Linked DNA regions of Homo sapiens. The protein of the gene in region 1 purifies or fractionates together with the protein of each later gene. This does not show direct contact. Each region holds a gene or a part of one and is shown on either strand. Other genes may lie near its edges.

Evidence for each region.
Region 2: the proteins of FUCA1 (region 1) and PRKD1 purify together in Homo sapiens (affinity purification with mass spectrometry; 2 studies listed by BioGRID and IntAct, with this or other methods). This does not show direct contact.
Region 3: the proteins of FUCA1 (region 1) and RBMS1 fractionate together in Homo sapiens (co-fractionation; one large-scale study listed by BioGRID). This does not show direct contact.
Region 4: the proteins of FUCA1 (region 1) and TIPRL purify together in Homo sapiens (affinity purification with mass spectrometry; 2 studies listed by BioGRID and IntAct, with this or other methods). This does not show direct contact.

The regions. Positions count from the first base shown.
Region 1 is NC_000001.11:23,857,530-23,862,814, reverse strand, and holds part of FUCA1 (tissue alpha-L-fucosidase precursor), read left to right. Parts: intron 1-2,911; coding exon 2,912-3,017; intron 3,018-5,285. UniProt on the Homo sapiens protein: Alpha-L-fucosidase is responsible for hydrolyzing the alpha-1,6-linked fucose joined to the reducing-end N-acetylglucosamine of the carbohydrate moieties of glycoproteins.
Region 2 is NC_000014.9:29,629,732-29,635,016, reverse strand, and holds part of PRKD1 (serine/threonine-protein kinase D1), read left to right. Parts: intron 1-475; coding exon 476-599; intron 600-2,070; coding exon 2,071-2,148; intron 2,149-3,995; coding exon 3,996-4,275; intron 4,276-5,285.
Region 3 is NC_000002.12:160,483,282-160,488,566, reverse strand, and holds part of RBMS1 (RNA-binding motif, single-stranded-interacting protein 1), read left to right. Parts: intron 1-5,285.
Region 4 is NC_000001.11:168,184,752-168,190,036, reverse strand, and holds part of TIPRL (TIP41-like protein), read right to left. Parts: intron 5,259-5,285; coding exon 5,159-5,258; intron 1-5,158. UniProt on the Homo sapiens protein: May be a allosteric regulator of serine/threonine-protein phosphatase 2A (PP2A). Isoform 1 inhibits catalytic activity of the PP2A(D) core complex in vitro. The PP2A(C):TIPRL complex does not show phosphatase activity.

The DNA.
Region 1 (5,285 bases):
CAGATTTGTGTTTGAATTCTGGCTCCTGTTACTTACATGCCTTAAACAGAACACTCTCCTGAGCTTGATTCTCACTCTGTAAAGTGGGGATAATAATGCCTTCTTTGTAGGGCTCAGAATAGTATGTGAAATGTATCTGTCACGGTGCCTGGTACAAAGTAAGGCTGTTGTTATTACCATTATTCTTTAAATGATCACTTTCACTTAGGGATTTGTCACTAGTTCTTCACAATGTTTTATCCCCATTTGCCTTTCTCGAGCCTGGGGACTCATAGAGGACGGTAGACCCTTAAAGCTTCAGAGGCAGCTGCCTGGACCCTCACTTTAGAGCAAAGGAAAATCACCTTTAGCCAGGCGCAGTGGCTTACGCCTGTAATCCCAGCATTTTGGGAGGCCGAGGCAGGCAGATCACTTGAAGTCAGGAGTTCGAGACCAGCCTGGCCAACACGGTGAAATCTCGTCTCTACTAAAAAATACAAAAATTGGCCAGGCATGCTGGTGCATACCTGTAGTCCCAGCTACTCGGGAGGCTGAGGCAGGAGAATCTCTTGAACCAGGGAGGCAGTTGCAGTGAGCCGAGATCCTGCTACTGTACTTCAGCCTGGGCTACAGAGGAAAACTTTGTCTCAAGAAAAGAAAAATTACCTTGTATTCAGATTCTATCCAGATGACTTCTCTTAAGAAAATAGTAACAATTGTAAGAGACCATCAGAGACATGGACAGATTTAGAATTACTGAATCTTAGATCCCCACTCTTTTATCGTACTTGGCTATGTTGCCTTGAACAAACTACTTATCTTTCGAGATCTTGGTTTCTCTATCTGTGAAATGGGATAATAGTATATCCTAGAATCATGAGAACTAATGAGGTAATGAGTTTAAATTGCCTAGTACAATTTCTTATACACAGTAAATCACAGACCATCTGTTATATCTTGCCACTTAGTGATCTTCCTAGAGTTTACCTGCCTAATTATGGAGTACAGTGGACAAATGGGCAGATTTGTATTTGAGTTCCACCTCCTGTTACTTACAAGCCTTGTCACCTGAAACAAATTGCCCTACTGAGCATCAAAGTCTTGCTGCTCAAATGAGAATAATAATGCTTACCATATAGGTATATACATATGTATTTATGTATATACACACAACATACATGCCTTATAGGGCTCAGAGTAATAATATGCTAGAGTACAAATGGGGCTCCAGTGGATTCCATAAGTCCTTTACAGTACAGACTTTGGTAATTATCCACAAAAATGCATTTTATGAATAGTTCCAACTCTTAAAACATCTTCAAAGCAAATCTTAGTCTTATAGTCCTGAAGCACCATTTTGTTTCCTTTGCTTCCTTGAAACACCATTCTTTTTTTTTTTATTATACTTTAAGTTTTAGGATACATGTGTACAATGTGCAGGTTAATTACATATGTATACATGTGCCATGCTGGTGTGCTGCACCCATTCTTTTTTTTTTTTTTTTTTTTTTTTGAGACGGAGTCTCGCTCCGTCGCCCAGGCTGGAGTACAGTGGCGCAATCTCGGCTCACTGCAAGCTCCGCCTCCCGGGTTCACGCCATTCTCCTGCCTCAGCCTCCCAAGTAGCTGGGACTACAGGCGCCCGCCACCATGCCCGGCTAATTTTTTGTATTTTTAGTAGAGATGGGGTTTCACGGTGTTAGCTAGGATGGTCTCGATCTCCCGACCTCGTGATCCGCCCGCCTCGGCCTCCCAAAGTGCTGGGATTACAGGTGTGAGCCACTGTGCCCGGCCAGCTGCACCCATTCTTAATTGGAATTAGTTGCTGAAAGGAAACCAAATTGTTTGTATGCTGATTACACCTCCATTTCCTAAAAGGCATAAAGAAAAAAGATTAGGGCAGGCACAGTGGCTCATGCCTGAAATCCCAGCACTTTGCGAAGCCGAGGCAGGTGGATCACTTGCTGCCAAGAGTTCAAGACCAGCCTGGCCAAGATGGCAAAACACTGTCTGTACTGAAAATATGAAAATTAGTCAGGCATGGTGGTGCACACCTGTAATCCCAGCTACTTGGGTGGCTGAAGTGCAAGAATCACTTGAATCCAGCAGGTGAAGGTTGCAGTGAGCCGAGATCACAGCACTGCACTCCAGCCTGGGAGACAAAGCAAAACAGTCTCAAAAAAAAAAAGGAAGAAAGGAAAAGATCAGGAGGAAATATACCAAAATGCTGTGTGTTTTTTTTTTTTTTTTTTGAGACGGAGTTTCACTCCGTCGCCCAGGCTGGAGTGCAGTGGCGCAATCTCGGCTCACTGCAAGCTCCGCCTCCCAGGTTCACGCCATTCTCCTGCCTCAGCCTCCCGAGTAGCTGGGAATACAGGCGCCCACCACCACACCTGGCTAATTTTTTTGTATTTTTAGTAGAGACGGGGTTTCACCGTGTTACCCAGGATGGTCTCGATCTCCTGACCTCGTGATCCGCCCATCTCGGCCTCCCAAAGTGCTAGGATTACAGGTGTGAGCCACTGTGCCCAGCCTGCTGTGTTTGTTTTAAATGGTGGTTTTATTAGCAAACTGGTTTTATTAGCAAATGTTTTCAGTTTTCCACATCCTCTGCACTGTGATAATTTTTATGCCACATACTTTCAAAATGAAGGAAAATTAATTTTAAAATATTTGTTGCAAAAATCAGTCCACAAGTCAAATGCAGTGATGTGCACCTGTAGTCCCAACTACTCAGGAGGCTTAGGCAAGAGGATCGCTTGAGCCCAGGAATTCGAGACTATAGTGCATTGTGATCATACATGTTGATAGCTGCTGGACTCAAGCTTAGGCAACATAGCGAAACCCCATCTCTAAAAAAAAAAATGGTCCATAAGATTTTACTGTGAACATGTTCAGATAATAAGCTCTGTCCTGATCACATGTCTTCCAGCTATAAACCTGATCTGATCTGGTCTGATGGGGAGTGGGAATGTCCTGATACTTACTGGAACTCCACAAATTTTCTTTCATGGCTCTACAATGACAGCCCTGTCAAGGTATGTGATTATATGACTTCTTATTTATCTCCTATGAAGAAAGAAAGTGCAAGGAGCCAAACTCTGGAGTAGACAACCACAGCAGCAGCAATAATAAACAGGAATATCAACATGGGGGCAGTAGGGACTGGGACACTTAATGGATGTTAAAGGTTTCTCCTTTAATCTTCCCTGGCTCCCTTAGAGTATAAGTTTTCTTCTCCTTTAGTGTTGTTTTTTTTTTTTTTTAATTGAGACAGAGGCTCACTCTGTCACCCAGGCTGGAGTACAGTGGTGCGATCTCCGCTCACTGCAACCTCTGTCTCCCGAGTTCAAGTGATTCTCCTGCCTCAGCCTTCCGAGTAGCTGAGATTACAGGGGCCCGCCACCTGGCCGGCTGATTTTTGTGTTTTTAGTAGAGACAGGGTTTCGCCATGTTGGGCAGGCTGCTCTCGAACCCCTGACCTCTGGTGATCCGCTCACCTTGGCCTCCCAAAGTTCTGGGATTACAGGCGTGAGCCACCGCACCCGGCAATCTCCTTTAGTTCTTAACTTTGACAATATAGGTTTAAACAGTGGTAAATTTACATAGTAGACTAAAAATAGTAATTACAATTCCCAGACCACTACAGAAAAAATAAACTCTATTAAGCAAACAAATGTTATAAATGAGAAAACCACCAAAAAGATATTAAAACATATAATAAAATACAAAGAAAACATATAAAAGACATACAGGCCAAGCATAGCAGCTCATGCCTGTAATCCCAGCACTTTGGGAGGCCAAGGCAAGCAGATGACTTGAGTCCAGGAGTTCAAGACCAGCCTGGGCAACGTAGTGAGACCTCATCTCTACAAAAAATAAAATTAGCTGGGTGTGGTGGCACGGACCTGTAGTCCCAGCTACTCGGGAGGTAGTCCCAGCTACTCAGGAGGCTGATGTGGGGGGAGGCTGACGTGGGAGGATCACTTGAGCCCAAGAGGTCAAAGCTGTAATGAACCTAGATCACGCCATTGTACTCCAGCCTGCGTGACAGTGAAACCCTGTCTCCAAAAAATAAAAATAAAGAAAACATATAAGATACACAAAACCTACAAAATTAAATGGTAGGAATAAAATGCAGATGCCTACAATCCCACCTACTCTATGTTGATTTTATAGTTTAACTCTCAAGGGACACACTTACTTCCCTTATATCCAAATCCTTGGGGGAATGTTGCCTACCCAGTACGCCTCCCTATAATCAACACTATGAGGCAGTGCATAATGGCTGCCCATTTACAGTTTGTATTTTAGCGTACTTGCAAAGTAGCGGAAACCCTAATCTTCACTGTAGCAAATTTCACGATTGTACATGTTCTAGATTTGTTGTGGATTTAAAAGGAAAATCTTAAGTGTAAAAGCAGTTTGTACTGAGGTACCTTGGTAGTTCATAAATCTCTAAGGGTCTTGGCCAGGTGCAGTGGCTCACGCCTGTAATCCCAGCACTTTGGGAGGCCAAGGCAGGCAGATCACGAGGTCAGGAGATCGAGACCATCCTGGCTAACACAGTGAAACCCCATCTCTACTAAAAATACAAAAAGAAATTAGCCAGGCGTGGTAGTGGGTGCCTGTAGTCCCAGCTGCTCAGGAGGCTGAGGCAGGAGAATGGTGTGAACCTGGAAGGCAGAGCTTTCAGTGAGCCGAGATCGCGCCACTGCACTCCAGCCTGGGCGACAGAGTGAGACTCCTTCTCAAAAAAAAAGTCTAAGGGTCTCATTGGGTCTCTATTACTAAGCTCAGAAAATGGGAAGAAAGAAAAAAACAGATTCTATATGATGCACAGAGACAGATTAAGAGTGGTTTTCTAAGGCCGGGCGTGGTGGCTCACGCCTGTAATCCCAGCACTTTGGGAGGCCGAGGCTGGTGGATCACGAGGTCAGGAGTTCAGGACCAGCCTGGCTAACACGGTGAAACCCCGTCTCTACTGAAAATACAAAAATTAGGCCGGGCCTAATTTTTACATGCCTGTAGTCCCAGCTACTTGGGAGGCTGAGGCAGGAGAATGGCGTGAACCCGGGAGGCGGAGCTTGCAGTGAGCCAAGATGGCGCCACTGCACTCCAGCCTGGGCAACAGAGCGAGACTCTGTCTCAAAAAAAAAGAAAATACAAAAATTAGTCGGGCGTGGTGGTGGGCACCTCTAATCCCAGCTACTCGAGAGGCTGAGGCAGAGAATTGCTTAAACCCGGGAGGCGGAGGTTGCAGTGAGCAGAGATCGTGCCACTGTACTCCAGCCTGCGCAACAGAG
Region 2 (5,285 bases), on another chromosome or scaffold:
TGTCACCCAGGCTGGAGTGCAGTGGTACAATCTTGGCTCATTGCAACCTCTGCCTCCCGAGTTCAAGCAATTCTCTGCCTCAGCTTCCCAAGTAGCTGGGATTACAGGTGCCCGCCAACATGCCCAGCTGATTTTTTTTGTACTTTTAGTAGAGACGGGGTTTCACCATCTTGGCCAGGCTGGTCTTGAACTCCTGACCTCGTGATCCACCCGCCTCGGCCTCCCAAAGTGCTGGGATTACAGATGTGAGTCACTGCACCCGGCCAGGATTTTTTAAGGTGTACAAACAACGTGCCTATCACTCTTCAGAGTAACCCACTTTCAGAACCATGGTGCCTGACAATACGTTTTACTAAACATGAGATGTGAATTTTGTAAAGTTTCACTTGGATTAGCTGACATAAGGTTTTATGCATGAAAATACATAAAATGTACCTGAAAACATTTTTTCCCTACAATATTTTGACTTCTCAAGTCCATCAACAAGCAACAATATCCCACTCATGAGGGTAGTGCAGTCTGTCAAACACACGAAGAGGAAAAGCAGCACAGTCATGAAAGAAGGATGGATGGTCCACTACACCAGCAAGGACACGCTGGTAAGATCCACAGGGAACAATGTTCTCTTGCCTTGCTAGCTTTAATTAGAGGAGTTGCTAATGTCCCGTGAGGACTGTGAGATTTCTGCATTACTCAGAGTAAACCTCAGCACAGGCATGACACGGGATTAGGTAAGGTGCATTACAGTCTCTGGGTGTCAGATATAGTTGAGCAAGCAACGAAGTTAGGAAAAAGTGTGGAAAGCAATTTCAGGCAAACAAATTCATTGACCTTGATTACCTGAGATGTCTACCTGCCATTTTATAGCACTTGTGGAAGCCACAGTATGTGCTTTCAGAATGCTTCACTGCAATTTAGAATTTTATAGGAAACACTGCATTCTAGGCAGAGAATAAAACAGTGATAACTATCTTATACTTCGTAAGTCCTTAACTAAGTTTTCCCTGAAGAACTGACCCATTCAGGAACATTGGAATCCTGTACCCTGAGATTTTCTTAATAGTTGAGGAATGAGGTTGTGTACGTACGTAAGAGAGAACAACTTGATTCACGTTTCAAAGTTAAGTTGACAATTGACTGATTTCTGTTACTGTATTGCTTTTCTCATCTCTTACCTATAGGATCACTACAGATAAGCAGACACCTATAACCTAATTGATCTATCTATAATTTCGACCATCTGTGTTAGAGAGAGAAGACCTACCTGATATTATAGGACTCAATTGAATACCGCCTAGTTCTTTTTAGACATGGTGTAATATATTTAATATATTTGACTGGCCTAAAATTGGTTGTGGAGGAGAAGAGCGGAATCATAGAGCTTTGGGGTCTTTTATAAGATAAAAATACACACACACCCTAAAATCCTGAAAGATATACCTACAGTGTAGAAGGACCTGTTCATCAAATCATAGTGGTTAGATCTGTAGTGAGCTGGAGAGAAGGTAGAGTTGGTTGTTTGATGCATTCCCCTGACTTTAAGTTGATGTCATGGAGTCAAACTTATTGTCCAACAAAATATTCTTTACTTCTACTCTAACATTCAGAATTTTCCCATTGCCAATGGAAGCAAGAATACCTGGCTCCATCAGCATGGGATTTCTTACGTCCTAAAATAATGAGCATGCATAATAAACATTGCATCTCCTAGTAAACCTTATTTTATTATAGACTATACATCCACCTTTAGCCCTTCAAGCAGTGAAATAAGCTTAAAAATGATGTTTTCTGTTTACTATGCACTTTCTAAATGCCAGGCTCTTACTGGGCGCTAATACTTCATCTTCTTTATTACTCACGACCCTGTAACATAAATGCAGATACTTATCAGACATGTGCTAAATAGTCAACCTCTAGAGCCTGAAATTGAGCATGAGTCTGCCTTTCCCAAAGCCCATGCACTTTCCACCCTCAAATCGCATGTCCCTATTGGGGAAATCTATTTATGTTTTCAATTGGGGATATTTTTAAAGTTTTTTAAAAAGATCTTGGATCTAACTTCTGTTTCAGCGGAAACGGCACTATTGGAGATTGGATAGCAAATGTATTACCCTCTTTCAGAATGACACAGGAAGCAGGTACTACAAGGTAAGAGTGGGCTCTTTCTTTGTAGTTTCATACCTCTTATTGCTTTTTCATGGGAATGTAGAGTATAAGAAATAGGAAATACATCCAACAAACGTGGCTATTTTTGTGCTTCCTCCAGGAACTATTTTTTTTTTCTTCTCTATAGTCTACAAATTTCTTGGGATTCAGGTTGGGACCTCTTGATTCTTCTGTGAATTTTAAATTTCCCTGGGGAGTGTTTCTGGTACCATGGGATGATGGGAGAGGGAGGGAGGTGAAGATTAATTGAATATGTTAGCAGAGAAGTGTGATTTAACTAGAAAATTAATGGTCACAGCAGATCAGCTCAAAGTAAACTCCTGATATCCACTGCATCTAGCACACTGCTAGGAGTGAAGAAACATTGTATGATTTCTCCATGCTTGTCAATATTCACAAAGAGCACTTTCCTCTAGAGAAAAAAATGGCAGCAATTTTTATTCTGTCCCTCTACATTAAGTAATACAGATGTGGCATACTATATCACCCAGTAAAACACAACTCCAAAAAAAACTTCATAGAGAAAATAATAGATACTTGCTCCTTCAAAATGAATGCAGACTCTGGAATAGTTGATTTGATTCTCCACAGCCATTTTACATAGCTGTCACAGAAAATGGAAACCTCACTAATTTTAAAATTAAAACTTTGTTTTAAAAGTTATTATTTTTTAGCCCCTGCATACTTCCTGGAAGATGCAGTAGTGATTTCTTTTTTTTAGTATGAATTGCCTTAAAAATGATGACTATTGGCCAGGCGCAGTGGCTCATGCCTGTAATCCCAGCACTTTGGGAGGCCGAGGCAGGTGGATCATTTGAGGTCAGGAGTTCTAGACCAGCCTGGCCAACATGGTGAAACCTTGTCTTTACAAAAATACACAAATTAGCCAGTCGTGATGGGATGCACCTGTAATCTCAGCTACTCAGGATGCTGAGGCAGGAGAATCACCTTAATCTAGGAGGCGGAGTTTGCAGCGAGCCAGGATTGCACCAATGCACTCCAGCCTGAGCAACAGAATAAGTCTCTGTCTCAAAAATAAAAATAAATAAATAAAAGGCCAGGCGCAGTGGCTCACCCTTGTAATCCCAGGACTTTGGGACACCGAGGCAGGCAGCATGAGGTTAGGAGTTCAAGACCAGGCTGGCCAACATGTTGAAACCCTGTCTCTACTAAAAATACAAAAATTAGCCAGGTGTAGTGGCAGGTGCCTGTAATTCCAGCTACTTGGGAGGCTGAGGCAGGAGAATTGCTTGAAACTGGGAGATGGAGGTTGCAGTGAGCCGAGATCACGCCACTGCACTCCAGCGTAGGTGACGGAGCAAGATTCTTTCTTGGAAAAAAAAAAAAAAAGACCATTTTAAAACCAATCTCTAGTTGTCCTCACTTAAACTATTCACTTGGCTATGTTATTACATTAACATGTATTGAGTGCCTTAAAGAATAGGTTAAAATTTAAAAATAGCCATGTCTGCCTAAATGCATTTCAAAAGTGTTGTGATTCTACCTCACTGTTACAAAAATTATCGCTTATTTTCTAAGTCTTGGATTTTGGTGAAGATTCAAAATCATTTTTCCTAACCATACTGATTCTCGCCACATGAACATAGCATAAAAAGTCACATTTTCTAGAAAAAGGAAATAAGGTTTCCCATAGTAAAGGTATTTTTTTTAATTTTGCTTAGCAGTATTCTGTGTTTTATAGTTTAAAAGTATTTTATTTAAATGGTGGCTATTTGTGATGTCATTTTTCACATGTTCTTGGCATGAATTTTCTTTGAAAGTTTACATACTTTTGATAAACAACATTTAGTACTTTTTTTCTTTCACAGGAAATTCCTTTATCTGAAATTTTGTCTCTGGAACCAGTAAAAACTTCAGCTTTAATTCCTAATGGGGCCAATCCTCATTGTTTCGAAATCACTACGGCAAATGTAGTGTATTATGTGGGAGAAAATGTGGTCAATCCTTCCAGCCCATCACCAAATAACAGTGTTCTCACCAGTGGCGTTGGTGCAGATGTGGCCAGGATGTGGGAGATAGCCATCCAGCATGCCCTTATGCCCGTCATTCCCAAGGGCTCCTCCGTGGGTACAGGAACCAACTTGCACAGTGAGTCTGCCAGTTTTCTAACCAGCCCAAAGCTCATCATGTGCCTACCCCTTGCTTAGTAAACATGTGCCCTGCCCTTCCTAAGAACAGAATGAAGAAAGACTTCTTGGGGATGACTTAGTTTATTGTAGAATGTAGGGTGTCTAAATAAAAGCTGCTGCACATACTAAGATGTTTAGTTTGTTAAATTATCCTATTTTATTATAGCTATTTTATATTAAAATTTAACAAATTCAGGTAAACACTATGTATTAGGCAATTACAGACCTCTAGAGCTATTGGTTATAAAAGAAGAAGTAATCTGGCCGGGCTCAGTGGCTCACACCTCTAAACCCAGCTCTTAGGGAGGCCAAGGTAGGTGGAGGACTTGAGCCAAGAGTTCTAGTCCAGCCTGGGCAACATGGGGAAACCCTGTCTCTACAAAAAATACAAAAATTAGCCAGGCATAGTGTCATGCGCCTGTGGTCCCAGCTACTCTGGAGGCTGAGGCAGGAGAATTGCTTGAGCTCAGGAAGCATAGGTTGCAGTGAGCCAAGATCAAGCCACTGCATTCCTGCCTGGGCAAGAAAGAGGAGGAGGAGGGGGAGAAGGAGGAGGAGAAATCTAGCCAGCTTCAGCTTGACATGGAATGCAAGAGAAGAAGAAGAAAGGAGAAGGACATGAAGAGGAAGAGGAAGAGAAAGAGCAAGAAGAAAAAGAAGAGGGAGAAGAAGAAGAAGCAGAAGAAGAAGGAGAAGGAGAAGAAGAAGAAGAGGAGGAGGAAGAGGAAAAGGAAGAAGGAGAAGGAGAAGGAAGAAGGAAGAAGAAGAAATCTAGCCAGCTTCAGCTTGACATGGAATGCAAGTCTTGTTATTTGCAAATCTGAATTAATAAGTTTCCCTAAAAACACCTCACCTAGTATTCTGTGCAGGGTATTGACGTGCAGAGTACATGGTAATTGGTAATTCTTGATCACTTTATCCCAGGAAGAATTCTCTGTTCATTAGTAGAATGAGATACATTTGCTAAAA
Region 3 (5,285 bases), on another chromosome or scaffold:
TCTTGCTCTGTTGCCCAGGCTGGAGTGTGGTGGCACGATCTCGGCTCACTACAACCTCTGCCTCCCAGGTTCAAGCAATTCTCCTGCCACAGCCTCCCAAGTAGCTAGGACTACAGGCGCGTGCCACAATTCCTCCCTAATTTTTGTATTTTCAGTAGAGACGGGGTTTCACTACGTTGGCCAGGCTGGTCTTGAACTCCGGACCTCGTGATCCGCCGCCTCAGCCTCCTTTCAAAGTGCTGGGATTACAGGCATGAGCCACTGCGCCCAGCCTCTGCTGTTTTATTTTAATGAATAAATAATGAAACCTGATGGAACTCAGCTGTGCCTCATGAGAGGCAGCAATGGGACGATGGAGGTCTACCATAGGTAGTTTGGTTAGGTGATACAGAGCAAAATGTAATTTTAGAACAAATGGTGTGTGTTGAACACACACACACAAATTTGAGTACATATGCAAATTTGATAATAGAAACAAAGCATTTCTTAGTCTGGTAGATATGAGGTCAATAGAAGAGTGTAGAGAGGATGGTAACAGCTAAGCCAACCACAAACTGAACATATATCTCCCATAATCTAATTCCTCAATGCATCTAGTCTCCTTAACAAAATTATGTGAATATTTTAATTTTTCAAACAAGCCCTGGAAAATAAGCATGTCAAAATGATGAGAGAAAAACAAAAAGGAGAGAGAAAAAATCAACATCTGAACCTCCTAGGGGAGAAAAGTGTATAAAATTAAGCATTGTTATTCTCTCCCCATGTTGTCTCTTAACTAATTCTTAAATGGATGCATTTTAGAAGATTGAGAATATGTTGGACATTGAATATGAAAACCTAGATTCTAAAAGTGAGGTTGGATGCTGATATGAACAGTTAGCTTGCATGTAGATCTGGCACTGTAAACATGCTAAATCAATGTTGGTGGGTGATTTCCTACATTCACTATAATATCTGTGTTTTGGATTAGGTAAAGATTTAAGCTGGTAGTTGTTGTAAAATTGCTGAGGCTCATGATGAAGGACTAAAACACTAGCCAATCAATTGTATTTACTGAGTGACCCCAGTACATCATTCTTTGCACTTGACATTGGGAAAGTTTAAAGAGTTGAATATCTGGTACCTGCTCTCCAGCACCTCACAAGCTACCAGGGAGGACAGAATAGACACAAGGCAAGAAATAAGCACAGAATATTTACAAAGTAGTGCACCCACGAAAGCAGCACACCAGCTGATGTCCTGGGTTTTAGTGACTGAGAAGGCACTAAGATATATGTAGGATTAAACACTTTGCCATGTCTTTTGCAAGAAAGTGAAAAGTGCTAATAAAAGCTACAATAAATCTGGGAATTTTAGAAAGACATAAGGCTTTAAATGAATAAATGAATTTTTTTACTTACCAGCATTGTTTTGCATTTTTTCTGCTGTATAAATTCTTTTAAGAGTACTTAGAATTTTAAACGAATAATTTTTTTGTACTTTATGTTAACTTCTCCTTAAAGTTTCATATTCAATTAATTTATTTCACCCTATTATTTTTCTAGTTTTATGCTTACAAATGTGCTGTTAAGCCAACCTATTAGAGGTGTGGCAGGTTGGAAATGTACTCCTTAAATGATGGCATAGTGGTTATACAGAAATATAACTTTGATTGTTTTGAGCCATTTGGAATGATGTTTATTTCTCCTAACTGATTAGCTTTGCTTCCGGCAAAGGGGAGGAAATAAGTTTGGGGTTTGTAATGCTGCTAATTAGATCATTGCTTGCCTGCAATCTACACATTTATAATGTGTCTAATGTGGGCTGGCATTTCTTCAGAAAATAAGATGTTAAAAAATTATTCCTGATCTTTAGTGGATATCTCTTTATCTGGTCATCAGCCAGCTTTAATTCTTTCAAAATAAGATATTCACCTCTGCAACTGGATCCAAGTGCTTCAGGAGTCCTGTTGTCCTCTACTTGGCCTCAATATGGGCCCTGGAATCCATTCCTCAGGCTGCCCATTGAACAACATGCGCTATGCAGTTGGGCTGCTGGGTCCCAGATAAACAGTGATTTCAGGGAAAGGTTTTGTGCAACAAAATGAGATCATTTCATAGATGTCATAAATATTTTCACTGGTCCTGAAGGAAAAATGCATCATCTTCCCAGACCCATTTCACACAATACTAGAGGTGTTTCTTCTACAAGTTGAAAAACTGAATACTTAGAATGGCAGAATTGGATGGATACATCATAGAATGCCATGCTCCGAACTTGAGTTTCTTGGACTGGGGGTGGGGGGTGGAGGACAGGGAATCAAATTGCGAAAACAGAATTTTATATTATGAGCTTACATTTATATTATCCTCAAATAATACTATACTATTTCCCCTGTTAAATACTTTTTAAACATGATGATTTTGAGTTGCAATTGGGAGTATATTTGAATTGGAGAACCCCTAAACCCTCCCTTACCAGTAGAATTACAATGAAATACTTTCACAGTTTATATAATAAGGTCTCAGATAAAATATTTAGTCATTAGGAAAAGTAAATTATATTGATATTTGTAATATCGTCAACTTTACCTTTGTCTTCTCAACAACAATTTCGTTTCATCATCCAACAGGTTTTTGACAAATGCAGACATTTATAAAAAGAAAAATTTGCCAGAAAAATGTATTTTCAAGTCACTAGCTGAAATACTCCCACGACTCTCTTTGCCTCCTACAAAGTACAGCTCTGATTAATTTCATTGTTTCTAAAATGACATTCTTTTAAAAAGGTGCCTAATCTCAGCCTCTTTTTAGGTTTCATTCCATATGATCATTTGTATACTTCTATTTAAAAAACAATAAACACAGAAAGAATTACCTATCAGAGAACTGGCTACTAGATGATGTTTTTCTCATGCTCTATGTGATTTGTTCAAAAATTGGGTATACCTTAACTTATAAGTGAGTTGCATTTCCAACAATTTTATTCCAAACAGTTCGCTTGTCATTTGGTTATTTAAAACTTGAAATTCATTTCATAAATAAATAGTTATCCTTAATGATATGGTCCCCAGCGAACCTGTAAGAGTCTGTAAAAGTAACCCACTTTATAATTCACGTATAGTTCTCTACTAACACTGCCATTGAACCAAATCACCACATCAGATGTTTCTTGGAGAGAGGGGTGAGTTTTCAGAGTTAGATTTCCAGGAACTCGTCTTTGCTTTCTTTGGGTGAGTGGGAAGACAGGGTTCTTCTACAATCTTTCAACAAGGCTTTGCCCTTTTATGGCAGGGGAGGGGTTTCAAGAAGATGGGAGGTGCAGCTTGTGAAGTCACAGGGATCAGGGAGTTTGTGCTGGAGCTTCCTCTGGGGGTCCCCTGAGAGCCCTCTTCACTTCTAGACCCACTCACCTGTTTTCTTGTGCTGGCCTCAGAGATAAACTCGTTCCCTTTTCCCCCTAATTAAAATAAAATCTTTTCCTTTTAAGAGCCGAGGGTTCCTAGTACTGCTTCTCATGCTGAGCTTACCACTACTAGATTACTACAGCCTCACAGCTTTTCTTTACTCTCCTTCAGCCCTGAATCAAGCAAACATCTCTTGAGGCTGGCAACCAGAAGGAAACAAAAAGACAAAGTAAAAATTCTGTCTATCTCTTCCAATTCTCTTTTTACCTTTTCCTGGTTCGTTGATGCTTCGTAAATTTTTTTTTTTTTTTGAGACGGAGTCTTGCTCTGTCGCCCAGGCTGGGGTGCAGTGGCACAATCTCAGCTTACTGCAAGCTCCGCCTCCCGGGTTCACGCCATTCTCCTGCCTCAGCCTCCTGAGTAGCTGGGACTACAGGCGCCCGCCACCATGCCCGGCTAATTTTTTGTATTTTCAGTAGAGGCGGGGTTTCACCATGTTAGCCAGGATGGTCTCGATCTCCTGACCTCGTGATCCGCCCGCCCCGGGCCTCCCAAAGTGCTGGGATTACAGGCGTGAGCCACCGCGCCCGGCCAATGCTTCGTAACTTTTTAGGGAATCCCCAGACCCTAGACCTCCTTGAGAATCCGATGATGGCGTACATTTTTTTGTTGTTGTTGTTGTTGTGACGGAGTCTCGCTCGCTCTGTCGCCCAGGCTGGAGTGCAGTGGCGCGATCTCGGCTCACTGCAAGCTCCGCCTCCCGGGTTCACGCCATTCTCCTGCCTCAGCATCCCGAGTAGCTGGGACTACAGGCGCCCGCCACCACGTCCGGCTAATTTTTTGGATTTTTAGTAGAGGCGGGGTTTCACCGTGTTAGCCAGGATGGTCTCGATCTGCTGACCTCGTAATCTGCCCGCCTCGGCCTCCCAAAGTGCTGGGATTACAGGCATGAGCCACCGCGCCGGCCTATGGCGTACATTTTTATTAGCCTCAAATGTTTACCTAGAATCAGCCTGTGGAGCACAGGTTAAGAATCTTACCCAGGGTGGGGAGCAGTGGCTATGCCTATAATTCCAACACTTTGGGAGGCCGATGGGGGAGGATTGCTTGAAGCCAAGAGTTCCAGACCAGCCTGGGCAACATAGTGAGACACCGTCTCTTAAAAAAAAAAAAAAAAAAGAATTTTATCCTGGAAGGAAGACAAATACTGAACAAATCTATGCTTAAGAGGATGAATCAGACAGACCAGAGATCCCTTCATGTTTTTTTTCTGGGTTGTAGCTCAACAGACTCTGTGATGAAGAGCTGCACAAAAGCCAGTGTCCTGCAGAGTGGGCTTGGGTGGCATGAGGTCCATACCCCTATCCAGCAAGGGTCTGAACAGTTTCAAAGTGTGTTTACTTTCTCTCTTCTTCACTCCTGTTCTCCAATTTGCTTCTTGTACTCTTAGAGTTAAGCCACTCTGGACTGACTTCTGTCCACTAACAGGTGTGTGTGATAGTGGTAGATGCACCAGTGTGACCATCGTATAAGCTACTCCCACTCCATCTGCCGGAATCAGGGACCAAGTGGGTCTGACAAAATTTGGCTAAAAAATCTTTACTACCTCTTAATGCTGTAGATTATGATTAAGTATTTGCTAACAATTGCCCCTGATTTGGGTTTTCTCTTCTGATTCTTTATCCAATTTTATATGGAAATTTTAAATAAAATTTTATTTGGTAACGTATAAGTGTGCTATGGAACCATAGACATGATGTAATACTTTGAACAAAAGTACTTAATTAGCATAATAGGAAGTATTTTTATGATAAATGTATACTCCTAATGAGATTGAAACTTAAATGTGATAAAGTCAAATAGCAAGCAGTTTACATTTTTTTCTTAACCCATACTAAAA
Region 4 (5,285 bases), about 140 Mb from region 1:
GATTTTAGTTCAGAGGAACACATTTTTAACATCCTCCTTATAGATACTCCTGAATCCCCCAAAATTAATCATTATCTGAATTTTCTCATTAGTAAATTGCTTCATTAATGTTTCACATATGCCTTCAGTAAGTGATTGGTCAAAATGAATCTGTCAGTTTTTCCATTTACGTACTTGTTCTTATAAAATGAAAGACAAAGTCAAAAAACAAAGCATGAGTTAGAGATATCATATTTAACTTATTTATGCTATTGTCTCCATTTGCAAGGCTAAATATGTCTAAAACTTTATACTTTTCAGCTCTCTTCCTCAACTCCACATATCTCTCTCTGAACCCAGGGATCTAAAAAATACAACAAAAAAAAAATAACCAGCTAAATATAAAACATATGGGCTGGGCGCGGTGGCTTATGCCTATAATCCCAGCACTTTGGGAGGCAAGGCGGCCGGATCACTTGAGGTCAGGAGTTTGAGACCAGCCTAGCCAATATGGTGAAACCCCATCTCTACTAAAAATACAAAAACTAGCTGATCGTGGTGGCAGGCACCTGTAATCCCAGCTACTCAGGAGGCTGAGGCAGGAGAATCGCTTGAACCCGCGGGGCAGAGGTTGCAGTGAGCTGAGATCACACCATTGCACTCCAGCCTGGGCGACAAGAATGAAACTCTATCTCAAAAAAATAAAAAACATATGGAACAGTATTGGCAGAATAAGTAATCTAGACAAACCTTCTTGATGAAGACAATTTAAAAAGCTGGCTAAAAAAACCCAAAAACTTCCTAAAAGCATCAAATGGCCAAGGCAGTATGGAGTTACTGGGCTGAGATCTGGAAAGACTGGAGCCGAGAAAAGTAAGTCTGTACTTGGCTGGCTTTTGCCCTGAGGCATAGCACTGGCTGATCCAGAGAAGAAGCTGGGCTCTGCTAGCTTTTGGTGCCATCACTGCTCAGTGCTCACTAAGGACAAGGACCCTGGAGAATTTCCTGCTTCCTCCCAAATCAGAGATGACACCCTAAAGAGCTATAGTGATTTCAGAACTTTTTTTTTTTTTTCTTGAGACAGAGTCTCGCTCTGTTGCCCAGGCTGGAATGCAGTGGCACCATTTCAGTTCACTGCAACCTCCAGCTCCTGGGTTCAACCAATTCTTGTGCCTCAGCCTCCCAAGTAGCGAGGATTACACACACATGCCACAACGCTTGGCTAATTTTTTTGTGTTTTTAGTAGATACAGGGTTTTGCCATGTTGGCCAGGCTGGTCTCGAACTCCTGACCTCAGGTGTTCCGCCTGCCTCGGCCTCCTAAAGTATTGGGATTCAGGTATGAGCCACTGTGCCCAGCCTCAGAGCTTCTTATCTGCAGGCCCAGTACACCTCAAACTCTGGTCCTAGACCAAGGCAGGCAAACTAAGACATGCAGCTCACATCTGCCCTGTTACCTATTTTTATGGGCTGCAAGCTAATAATGGCTAAATAATTGGAGAAAAAAAATCAAAAGAAAAATATTTCATGACACATAAAAATTACATGAAATTCAAATTTCACTGTCCATAAAGTTTTATTAAAGCATAGCCATGCCCATTCATTTATATATTGTCTATGAGTGATTTAGACTATGATAGCACAGCTGAGTTGCTGCAACAGAGACTCTAAGGCCCACAAAGCCTAAAATATTTACGTCTGACTCTTTACAGAAGAAGTTTGCAGAGCTCTGTCCTTGACTATGAATATTCTCGAGCGCCTGTCAGAACTAAACAAAAATCCTCTCTGAAGGAAAACACCATCATCCTAGAACTGAAATGAAAATAAAGAGGCAAATTAGAAGCCTAGATGTCATAACCCAGAACCAACTGAAATAAAAGACACTAGGGATTCCAGAGGTGATTGAAATTATTAGGCCTTAGTCCATTTGGGCTGCTATTTAATATAATAATATACCATAGATAATATATCTACTTTTATTCTAGGTATTACAATATTAACTTAGGTTCCCTAATACTTGATATACTATATTATCATAGTAACAGCTGCCATTTATTGAGATCTTACTGCAAAACACACACTGTTTTGAGATAGGGTGTCGCTCTGTCACCCAGGCTGGAGTACAGTGGCACAATCACAGCTCACTGCAGCCTCGCCTTCCTGGGCTCAACTGATTCTCCCACCTCAGCCTCCTGAGTAGCTGGGACTATAGACACGTGCCACCAGACCCGCCAATTTTTCTATTTTTTGTAGAGATGGGGTTTCACCATGTTGCCCAGACTGGTCTTGAACTCCTGAGCTCAAGTGATCCATCTCAGCCTCCCAAAGTGCTGGGACTACAGGCATGAGCCACTACACCCAGCCTACATACATAATTTTATTTCCTACTTCACAACTAGTATTACCCTAGTTTAACAAAGTGACTGAAACAAGGCTAAGTAAGACTAAATTACTTTTCCAAGCTGGCAAATGATGGTGCTGGGATTTTGAACCCAGATCTGTGTTTTGCCAAAGCCTGAGCTCATTACCACCAGTGAGTGGGTAATCACATTGACATTTATCAGCAACACCTCAGAACAAATCACATTATAGGCTGAAGTATCAATAGGAGAGTACTGAACAAATGCTTTTTGCCTTCTACTACTCTCACACTCCTTGTTTGTACAGCTGTGGTTCTCACTTGGTCACACCTAATGCTGCTTCATAACCTCCAGGAGGCTTTTCCTAAGTCAGTCCACAAAGTAAGTCATCATCATTATTGTATGGGTTTAAAACAAGTTCCCATTTCCTCACTCCTGGCAATGAAATATTAAATGGTCTCTACAAAGTTTTTCAATCAGAAGAGAGGAGGGAGGAGAACACTAATCTATGAAGTAGTATAAGGGACTAAAATAACCTTGCTCTCCCATTAGACTGTAAAGGAGGAATTTTTGTCTGCTCTGCTGTATCCAAGGCTCCTAGCATTAGTGCCTGGCATAGAGCAAGAGCTCAAGAAATATCTGTTGAATGAATGAATGAGTTTTTTCCTGGAAGCACAGAAAAATAGTTAAAGCTTGGACTGTAATAATAGCAGAAACTGAAGATAACAATCATTAAGTTCCTGCTATGAACTTTTATCTTCATGAGACTCTAAAAATTTCTGCAGAGAAAAGGGGCCCAGACACAACACTATCTTCTTAACATTTCTGCCTAAGCACCAACATATGATATCAGGTTTCCTTGTTTTGAGATGGAGTCTCACTCTGAAGCCCAGGTTGGAGCACTGTGGCGTGATCTTGGCTCACTGCAACTCTGCCTCCTGGGTTCAAGCAATTCTCCTGCCTCAGCCTCCCCAGTCTCCAGCTCCTAACCTCAGGTGATCTGCCTGCCTCGGCCTCCCAAAGTGCTGGGATTACAGGTGTGAACCACTGTGCCCGGATGACATAGGGTTTCCAATAGCTACTTTTAATATAAATATTTCAGGTTACGCTGAAATAAATTCATTCTATATAATAGTCTGTGATATTTAGAGACATTCAACCTAAACCAAATTTGCTTTATTTTATTTTACTTATTGTTTTTCTGAAACAGAGCCTTTCTCTGTTGCCCAGGCTAGAGTGCAGTGGCGTGATCTCGGATCACTGCAACCTCTACCTCCTGGGTTCAAGTGATTCTCCTGCCTCAACCTCCCAAGTAGCTGGGATTACAGACACACGCCACCAGGCCTGGCTAATTTTTACATTTTTAGTAGAGGTGCGGTCTCACTATGTTGGCCAAGCTGGTCTCGAACTCCTGACCTCAAGTAATCTGCCCTCCTTGGCCTCGCAAAGTGCTGGGATTACAGGCGTGAGCCATTGAGCCCAGCCCAGATTTGCTTCCTTTCAGTCATACTATAAGATTTCAAAATGCAGCTAACTTCACAATATAAGACCTACCAATTCCATCTTCCTAGCGTTATTTACCATGAATCTCTCTCTTTTTTTTTTTTTTTTTTTTTTTTTTTTTGAGACGGAGTCTCGCTCTGTCGCCCAGGCTGGAGTGCAGTAGTGTGATCTCAGCTCACTGCAACCTCTGCCTCCCGGGTTCAAGCAATTCTCCTGCCTCAGCCTCCCGAGTAGCTGGGACTACAGGCATGCTCCACCATGCCTGGCTAAATTTTGTATTTTTAGTAGAGATGGGGTTTCACCATGTTGACCAGGCTGGTGTTGAACTCCTGACTTCATGATCCACCCACTTTGGCCTCCCAAAGTGCTGGGATTACAGGCGTGAGCCACTGCACCTGGCCGAATCTCTTCTTTTTTTTTTTTTTTGAGACAGAGTCTCACTCTGTCACCCAGGCTGGAGTGCAGTGGCGCGATCTTGGCCCACTGCAACCTCCACCTCCCGGGTTCAAGCAATTCTCCTCCCTCAGCCTCCTGAGTAGCTGGTATTACAGGTGTGCGCCACCACACCCAGCTAATTTTTTTTTTTTAATAGACAAGGGGTTTCACCATGTTGGTCAGGCTAGTCTCGAGCTCCTGACCTCGTGATCTGCCTGCCTCGGCCTCTCAAAGTGCTGGGATTACAGGCGTGAGCCACTGCGCCTGGCCCCAATCTCTTCTCAAGCAGGGCTTACACACACAGGACTTAATACTAATATAGAGCTTTAGAATTTATTGAGAGCTTCCCATAAATTATTTCACATCAAAACTCTGCTTTGAGGTAGATATTTCTGTTTACCCAATTTATTGATAAAACTGAGACTCAAATTAAGTAACTTCCTAAAGTCATTTCAGGTTCATACTCAGGGCAGACAGGGCATAAACCTACTTTGTCTAACCAGAAGTTCTTTTTGCTCATATATTTGTTCATCTATAAACTTGTGAGCTACAAGCTAGCAGGTTCTGTCTAAATCATGTAATACATTACCAAGGCCCGAAACACATTTTAATGTTTCTTGATAGTGATAATGATAACAACAAGGCCGTCTGCCGTTGCCACCAACTACACTTTTAAAAATAAATTTTTCCACTAATGCCGTCTTTTATTTTCTACTGATAAGTCAACAAGCAAAACCCCCTCACATTAGGTTCTGAGGAATGCCACAACAGAAAACAAGGACGATAAAAATAGTTGCAAAAAATAACCCGTTACTAGAAAGTTCTAATGCTCAGACTGTCCAAGACAATCAATGACTCATGAAAGAAAAAAGTAAGATTTACCTTTAACTTAAGAGATTCTCCAAGTAAGGTTCCCTTATAATCTGTTGTATAGGTCCAATCATATGGTTTAATAACCTCTTTGGAGTGTTCACCCTCCGTCCTCAAATACCAAAATGAGAAGGATCAG